3 separate regions of the Homo sapiens genome follow, and regions 1 and 3 are each linked to region 2. The links come from fine-mapping of genetic effects on gene expression. A gene starts in region 2. Each other region holds a variant in brackets. All regions are shown on one strand. Distances are between the middles of the regions.

The links.
Region 1: its variant is fine-mapped to the expression of ANO5 in whole blood (TOPMed, PIP above 0.99).
Region 3: its variant is fine-mapped to the expression of ANO5 in whole blood (TOPMed, PIP above 0.99).

What each region holds. Positions count from the first base shown.
Region 1 is chr11:22,162,178-22,164,983 of GRCh38, reverse strand. The region is part of intron 1 of LOC124902645 (a long non-coding RNA gene); the gene reads left to right. Among named protein-coding and RNA genes, the nearest start is that of ANO5, 30 kb to the left of the region's middle. The variant C/T (reference allele first, on the strand shown) is at 1,440.
Region 2 is chr11:22,191,894-22,194,541 of GRCh38, reverse strand. ANO5 (anoctamin 5) reads right to left here and starts at 1,457. Exons shown (of 22, transcript NM_213599.3): 1 at 1,010-1,457. The coding sequence starts at 1,049. RefSeq lists enhancers at 640-829, 1,080-1,169, 1,820-1,889, 1,920-1,979, 2,210-2,299 and a silencer at 1,590-1,639.
Region 3 is chr11:22,154,774-22,157,579 of GRCh38, reverse strand. The region is part of intron 1 of LOC124902645 (a long non-coding RNA gene); the gene reads left to right. Among named protein-coding and RNA genes, the nearest start is that of ANO5, 37 kb to the left of the region's middle. The variant G/A (reference allele first, on the strand shown) is at 1,362.

The sequences.
Region 1 (2,806 bases), 30 kb after region 2:
TTCCAAGACTCTGCCTTGTGTGTCTTCCTTTGTCTGGTTCTAATTTGTATATTTTCCTTTTAATAAAAGTGACCTTGAGTATAATAACTTTCAGTGAGTTCTGTGAGTCTTTCTAACAAATTATTGAGCCCAAGAATGATTCTGGGGATGATTCTGGGAGCCTCCCAAACTTGTCTGTTTCAAAAGTCTTGGGCAGACTTGGCAGTCTAGAGGACTGTGACCTTAACTTTGCAGTCTAGCTAACTCTAAGTGGTACAAAACCAAATAAAACTTATGAATGTCCCTCTTGATTATTTAGATGACTTTGGGCTCTATGCATATCTGTTTTGTATTCTAAGTGAAGGTTTTTGTGTCTTTCACATGTGGTTCTGCCATTCCAAAAGCCTTGTTACTTTCTTCTGACGTCTCACCTCCAAAACAATGCTCCTTAGAGAGGCTTAGCAGTGAAATTACAAGATCTTATTCCTAGGCCGGGCGCGGTGGCTCATGCCTGTAATCCCAGCACTTTGGCAGGCCGAGGTGGGTGGATCACCTGAGGTCAGGAATTCAAGACCAGCCTGAACATAGTGAAACCCCATCTGTACTAAAAATACAAAATTAGCTGGGCGTGGTGGTGCATGCCTGCAATCACAAGTACTTGGGAGGCTGAGGCAGAAGAATTGCTTGCAGTGAGCGAAGATCACACCATTGCACTCCAGCCTGGGCAATAAGAGCGAAAATCTGTGTCAAAAAAAAAAAAAAAAAGGAAAAAAAAAGATCTCATTCTTAACAATAGCATTCTGGAAATAATAGTATTTCTGAGTGTATCAGTCAATGTCCAATCAGAAGACAAAAACTACATGGTAATTTGAATGGGAAAAATTTAAAGAATTATTAATTATAAAAAGGGATTGGCACAATAAGGGTTTGGTTCTTAAGAAGTAAAGAGAATTCTAAGGAATACGGGAGTAGCAAATATAAAGAGCAGCCAGTACCTCCCAGACTGAGATAGGCTGAGATACAGCAGCCAAGGAAGATCCACTCCCAGCTCCCAGGCTGAGACCCAGATCTTTTGGGAGAAGGCTCTGCTATGGTTCATTGGATGGCAGAGAAATTGCTGTGGCACCTCACTAGTGGAAACTGCTGGAAATCTGCCCTCTAGAAACTTACAGAAAATCTACACTCTAGAGACTGGAAAAAGTTGTTCACAGAAGTTGTCTTGCCTGAGGCATTCCAATACAAAATTGCCTGGTTGAGCGGATGGCAGGGGAAGCTGCTGCCTACTGGGTGCTCCTGATAACTGTCTGCTGCAGGAGCTAGGCTCTGGGGAAGCTGTACTTGGTACAGGAACTGGGCACTAGAGAAGCAGTTCACTGAAACAGCTGGGCATGGGAGAAGTTGTGTGGGCTGCAGAGGGCTTCTGAGCCAGCTCATCAGAACCAGAAAGGAAAATCCTTCTT[C/T]GGCAATGTGTCTCTAGTGCCCTCTGTTACACAATGAGGAAGTGAGGCAGGGACTAGATCTGAAATCTTCCAGTCCAGTGTAGTATCATTGTTTTTTTTTTTTAACCACAAGATCATGCAACTTCAAACCGCTGTTAAAAAAAAAAATGAGTTATCTTCTGGAACAATTTTCTCTTTTTTAAAGTGACAACAACAACAATGACTATATTTTCAGGGCAGAAACTATGTGCTCACAAAACCCAGTGAAGACAGTAATATTATCTCCATGTTACAGATAAAGAAAGTAAGACTCAGGGAGGTTAAGTGATTTACTTAATGTCACACAATAAGTAGCAGAGCAGTTTGCCTAGTTCCAAAACCTGACTCTTAGCCTTACATAAGGTAAATCATATACTTATTATTTACAGCCAAGAATTTCTTACATAGGTAAGAAATGGGAATGTTCCTAGGATTAGAAAAAAAAGGAGACAATTATGGTAGGGAGTGACAATTATAAAGTAAGAGATACACCAGCATGGGTTGGCTGATTACTTGTCTACATGGCTGGCTGGGGGAAGTATGTTGTTGGGTGGAGAGGTTGTGGATTGGCGTAAGTTGAGGGAACGCTGGCACTTGGCAGCTGAACAGAAGCTGAGGGCAATGAGAGCAGGGCTGGAGGAGGATTGCAGGAGATAGAAGGCCTTTATGCACCGTCCTTGCCTTTTTCACAGCTTGCTTAATCTACAGTACACAAAATCAACTGAATGGTAGTGTCTTCTCTCCTTTTTGCCTTATTTCTTTAACTACATACTATAAATTTTATGGTTTTTGTTTTGTTTTGTTTTGTTTTGTTTTGTTTGAGGCAGAGTCTCACTCTGTCACCCAGGCTGGAGTGCAGTGGGATGATCTCGTCTCACTGCAACCTCTGCCTCCTGGGTTCAAGTGATTCTCCTGCCTCTGCCTCCAGAGTAGCTGGCATTATAGTTGCCTGCCACCACGCCCCGCTAATTTTTTTGTATTTTTAGTAGGGATGGGGTTTCACCATGTTGGCCAGGCTTGTTTTGAACTCCTGACCTCAAGTGATCCACCCTCCTTGGCCTCCCAAAGTGCTGGGATTACAGCCGTGAGCCACTTTGTGCCCAGCCTATAAATTTTATGTTTAAATTTAAGGTTGGGTAGCTACATAATTTAAAGGAGGGCAAGGTATAGATTTTGAGCAATCACTCTAGTTTTATAATGCCACCCCCAATCCGATTCTTAATGCAAGCATGCGGAACCTTTGCCAAGTACTTCAGAGTACACACAGTATAAGTACAACCATTGTCATAGAGCATTCTCTTAAATGTGGTTTCATTTGAGTCCTTGGATAGAAAATAAATGTTCAGTGA
Region 2 (2,648 bases):
GATGATAGTTACAAAACTCTGTAAATACACTAAAAAAAATCCAACTTTACACGTCAAATAGGTGAATTTTACAGTATATAGATTATATCTCAATAAAGCTGCTTAAAAAAGGGAACGAGGAGGATGCAGTAACACACGGTATTTCCCGGTGCCTTTGAAGACTGAATAGTAATGATCAGATCTTTTGTCACTTTGGAAAACTGTTTCTGTGTTTAAATCCAACACTAAACAAGACATGAAAATAAAATATCATTGAAGGAACTGGGGTCCTGGAGATAGCAGCAAAATAGTATGTGCATTTTAAGGAAAATACATGTATTAAAATAGGTCCACGGAATACAGGTGGTGTAAAGGCTTTGGCAAACAATGGATAAATATTTCTCAACGGAACTAAAGGGCTTAATGAAAGCTGTTGAAAAGCAACAGCAGCAGCAGCAGCAGCAGCTTTTCCAAGTGCCTATGGCTCTCAGTATCTCAAACTGATAGATTTTAGGATCTGCTACTCCTACAATTAACAAGCATCTCAAAGCATGATAAGTAACGGGCAGAGAGAGTGAGGTAATAAGACTCAAGGACCAGCTCCTTACACGTGGGATAGCTGTCTTGCACTCTATACTGCTGCTTTTTTTGGGAAAGCCTTCGTTTCCATTGGCTGGGTTCGGAGACCCAAGCACTGCAGCGCTAGCCTAGCAGCCCTGAATTACTCGGCGGTTCCCAGGCCTGCAGGGGAGCAAGGAGGGTGTTCCGGAACCATAGGGGTCACAGGTCGCAGGTCCCTGGCGCGCAGGAGCAGCAGAGAAATCTGTGGGGCGCCGAAACCAACCCCACTCACCCCAGGCGGGGGACTCTGCCCCGCAGTCCCGGTTTCGCGCTGAGCACGCCACGCAGCGAACCTCCCTAGGACTCAGGCCGCAGGGCCGCCAACGTCCCCCGGGGCCTCTGCGCCGCGGGTGGAGGGGTGCAGGCAGCCAGCCTGGCTCTCCCTTGACGCCTCTTGGCGCGGTCCTACCTTCCTCCGCCAACACTTCCAGGAGATCCGGGTCGCCCATCTTCGCCAGCTCGTTAATGGCACTGGTGCCTGAGAGGCAGCAGGAGAGGGGCAGCTGAGACAGACGTGGAGATCTGAGGCAGGTGCTGAATCTGACTGTGGGCCGCCGGAGTTGCTGCTGCTGGACTTCTAAGGGCCTGCTCTTCCTTCTGCAGGCCTCCTTCTCCTCCTCCTCGGACTCCACCGTCTCTGGGCGCCACAGCCAGCCGGCCTTCCTCTCCGGCGGGTACTTCCACTCGACCCGGTCCCCCACAACCTGCTTCGCGCGCTTGGCCCTGCGCTTCCCCACCCTCAGCCGGTAGCGCTCCTGGGCGCTCTCCCAGTACTTCTCCAGGCACCTGTCCCTGTGCCTGCTCGGCAGCTGATCCCGCAGCCGCCACTCCTCCCGGTGCTCGCCAGGATCCTTTCCACTCCTGCCCTCTGGCAGCTTTCCTTTCCCCTTCGCTGCGTCCCTGTTTCCACGCCTCTTTCCCCGCCTCCAGACCGCAAGACCGGCCGGCGCCCCACCCTCGGAGACCGCCATCTCCCCGCCCCCCGGCCCGGCTGGCTCCACGCTGGCCCCCTCCTCTCCGCTCAAGCCGTCCCCAGGTCCCTGCTCTGCCGCCTCCCGCACCTCCTCCGGACATGCAGCCTCCCGTCCCTCCTCGGGACCCGCCGCCCCCCGGCCCTGTTGGCCGGCCTGCTCCATTCTGTACAGGCTTCGCACGTCCTTTTCCACTGGGTCCACCCACGACCAGGAATCCTGGTTCCCCAGGGCTGCCGCTTCCCTCCTGTCGGAATCCTCCTCCTCCGATCCCCAAAGGGGGTCCCGATGCTCCCTCAGCCGGTTGGCCGGGTCTTCATCGATCCGCTCATGCGTGCCACTCGGAGAGAACCCCTCTCCCAGTTGGGAGTTACTTTTGGTCTCGTGGGGAAAAGTCCCTCTCCCTTAAAGGAACCCCTCCCTTTTAAGGCCGGCTCATGGCCCGAGACTCCAAGGTGCCAGCAGCCCCTTCCCCATAGCGTCTGGAGCGGGAGTATTGACTTTTCTCCTGGCCCTGCCTGCTTCCTGGGTTCCCAGCAGGATCTCTGCCCTCTACAGGTGGGGGAAGGTCATCCCTTGTGGCCTGAGTTCCAAGTCAGCCTCTGCCCCTTAAGAGTTGGATAGTGTGGGGCAAGTTTCTCTAAGTTTCAGTTTCCACATATTTAAAGGAGAATGATAATAGTACCCACCTCCTAGGCTGTTGAGAGAAGCACGGTGCACAGTCCTTGCCACAGAATGTGTTAAACATTTAGCTGCTATTAAGATTAACCCATATTATAGTCCAGCTGGGATGACGCCTGTCATCATCTCAGCTGGACGATATCGCTTGAAAGCTCAGGAGTTCAAGACTAGCCTGGGCAACATAGGGATACCCCTGTCTCTACAAAAAATTGGAAAATAGCCAGTCATGGTGGCAGGCACCTGTGGTCCCAGCTACTCGGGAGGCTGAGGTGGGAAGATCGCTTGAGCCCAGAAGATTGAGACTACATAGAGCCACAATCATCCCGCTGCACTCCAGCCTAAGTGATGGAGAGCAAGACCCTGTCTCAAAAGAAAGTAAAGAAAAGAAAAAAAGAA
Region 3 (2,806 bases), 37 kb after region 2:
CTAAATACATTGCTAGTTTACTAAGATGCTTATAGCTGAATTTTCCTGGTTTCATGCTTATGGCTAGAAGAGGTACTAAGGTACAATCAAAATAGTATTCTCTGTACTCTGAAAGAGCCAAGAGAACCAGATCCAGACCCAGTTCTGCAGTTTACTTACCATGGTGAGGCCTGGGCAAATGAGTGCCCCCTCTAGACCTTACGTTTCCTACTTGTGAAATATAAGTGAGAGGAGTGGCCTCATTGCTATATAGAGCTCTAGTCAATTCTGACTGTGGATCCCTCACTCTCCTGTATAGAGTCATGTTATGCCAATATTACCTGCAAACTGCCAAATGGGCCAGGTAATAAAGACTAACAAATATAATGCTATTTATGAATTACCCTGAGGATCAGTTCAGATTAAAAAAGTGGAACAGTAAATCCCACAGAGCTGAACACTGGAGAAGAAAAGTTGTTAACTTGGTGGCCTCTGCTGCTACTGTGCCTTCTTGAGGGAAATCTTAACTGATGGAGAAGGGAGTGGAAGAAGGAACCTGAGAAGGTGAATAAGAAACCAGGCTAGTAGGCTGCAGCTGCCGTCTGCTTGCACCAGTGCTGCCTGAGAAGTTTAGAAAAGCCACCTTCTCAGCTACATCTGGAAGCAGCACGGTCTTCTTGAGAATTTCAGGTAGCCAAAGAACTCTGAACGAAGACTTAGAAGACCGGTTTCATGTCTATTAATAATAAAAATAACAGCTTTACCATCAATTGATCACTTAATTGTGCAACAGGACAAAAGCCTTTTGCAACATGATCTCATTTCATGTGTACAGCAACCCTGTAAAGTGAACATTTTTAGTAACTCTATTTTAGAGACAAGAAAACCAAGATTCCCAAAAGTATTAGTGATTTTCCCAAGTTCAGCCAGCTAAATAGCTTTGTATTAGGTGCAGAACTTAATAGCTATTATTTGGGGAAGGGGTGAGAAGAGTATGTTTATCACATGTGTTGTTTATACCTCCTTACACTCTCTGAAAATCCTTTTAATATTTAATGATAAAATCAGATGATGAATTATATCGAAATAGCAGTGAAGGTGGGGAAAAAGTATCAAAAGGGTAACAATTTGAAGTTTCTGTGAAAATGGAGAGGAAAAGACTTCTTGATGTGGAAGTTTGGGAAGTTCCACAAGCTGATTTCTTAGGCACTTGTAAGACTCAGATTTTATTCCCCTAGGTACATTTACAATTCAGTATCTTCTTTTCTTGGTTAAGGTCCTCACACCAGTCCCAGTAAGTAGAGGGTAGCTCTCTTTCACTTCAGCAATTTGTCCTATGATGTGGAAGGGCTTTGCTTATGGAGTCTTCTTAATGCTTCAGG[G/A]AAGAGAAGTAGCCACAAATGCTCTGAAGAGATAAAGCGGTTTTCCGCCTAAGTGTATTTGAGGCAGGATTTCTGCCCACAATTACGCTTCTCCCTTCCACTGCCTTCATTTCACTTTGATTAAAGGGATTGAAATAATCTGGGTCTTCACCAAGTCCCAGTTAAAAAAAGAAATTCATAGGTGGTGGTGGGTGGTGACTAGTGCTATAACTAAGTCTTTAAGTAAGTATCTTAAGCTACCTTTCCCAAAATGGATTCCAGGAAATAGTAGTCTCACAAGTTTCACTCCAAACTGAAGGCTCTTTGTTCAAATTCCTTTTGGAAATGCTGCAGTCTTTGCTGATGTCAACAAGAGGCTACTAGCACTTACAGCCAGACAATTCTTTGTTTTCTGCAATTATCCCCAAATATTGCACGTTATTTAGCATCCATGTTCTCTGGACTTTAAATGCAAGTAAAGGTTCTCATCATCATGATAATCAAAATTGACTTAATACATTTATAAGTGATTTATATGATTTGGCTCTGCCCCCCTACCCCCTCAAATCTCATCTTGAATTGTAGCTCCCACAATCCCCACATGTCGTGGGAGGAACCTGGTGGGAGGTAATTGAATCATGGGGGCGGGTTCTTCCCCATGCTGTTCTCATGATAGTGAATAAGTCTCATGAGATCTGATGGTTTTAAAAAAGGCAGTTCCCCTGCACAGGCTCTCCTGCCTGCTGCTATGTAAGATGTGCCTTTACTCCTCCTTCGCCTTCCACCATGATTGTGAGGCCTCCACAGCCATGTGGAACTGTGAGTTAATTAAAACGTTTTATAAAAAAGTAAATTACCCAGCCTTGGGTATGTCTTTATTAGCAGTGTGAAAACAGACTAATACTATGATCCTTGGAGGATGGTACCAAACCTCATTGAGAACTACTGTAGCTATCGCCTTATGCAAATTCCCAGAACACTTGTCATGTTGGTATATTAAAGACTCAGGGAAGAATCTGTTTTCACTATATTGTTTTGTTTTAACTTTTAATCTCCTAGGTATCAGTGCAGGTTTGTTACATAGGTATACTTATATCACAGGATTTTGTTGTACAGATTATTTAATCAGCCAGGTATTAAGACTGGTACCCACTAGTTGTTTCTACCATATTGTTATTCGATTCAGCATATCCTAAAAAATTATAGAGCCTCTTACCCCCTCTCTCTTGTTTTTCTTTAGGATACCAAGTGATATCCCATGAAATTCCCTTTGGAAAATACTACTTTAGCAAGAAGGATGAGGAAGGGGATATTAGAAAGAGCAGAGACATTAACGATTGCCTAATATCTGAAGCCCACTATTTACCCCATGAGACAGATATGGCCCACTTGGCCCTGAGGACTTTTCAAATTTTTGCTTTAGACATGATTACCATTCATGATCTTTCAAGCCGCTGGGACCTAAT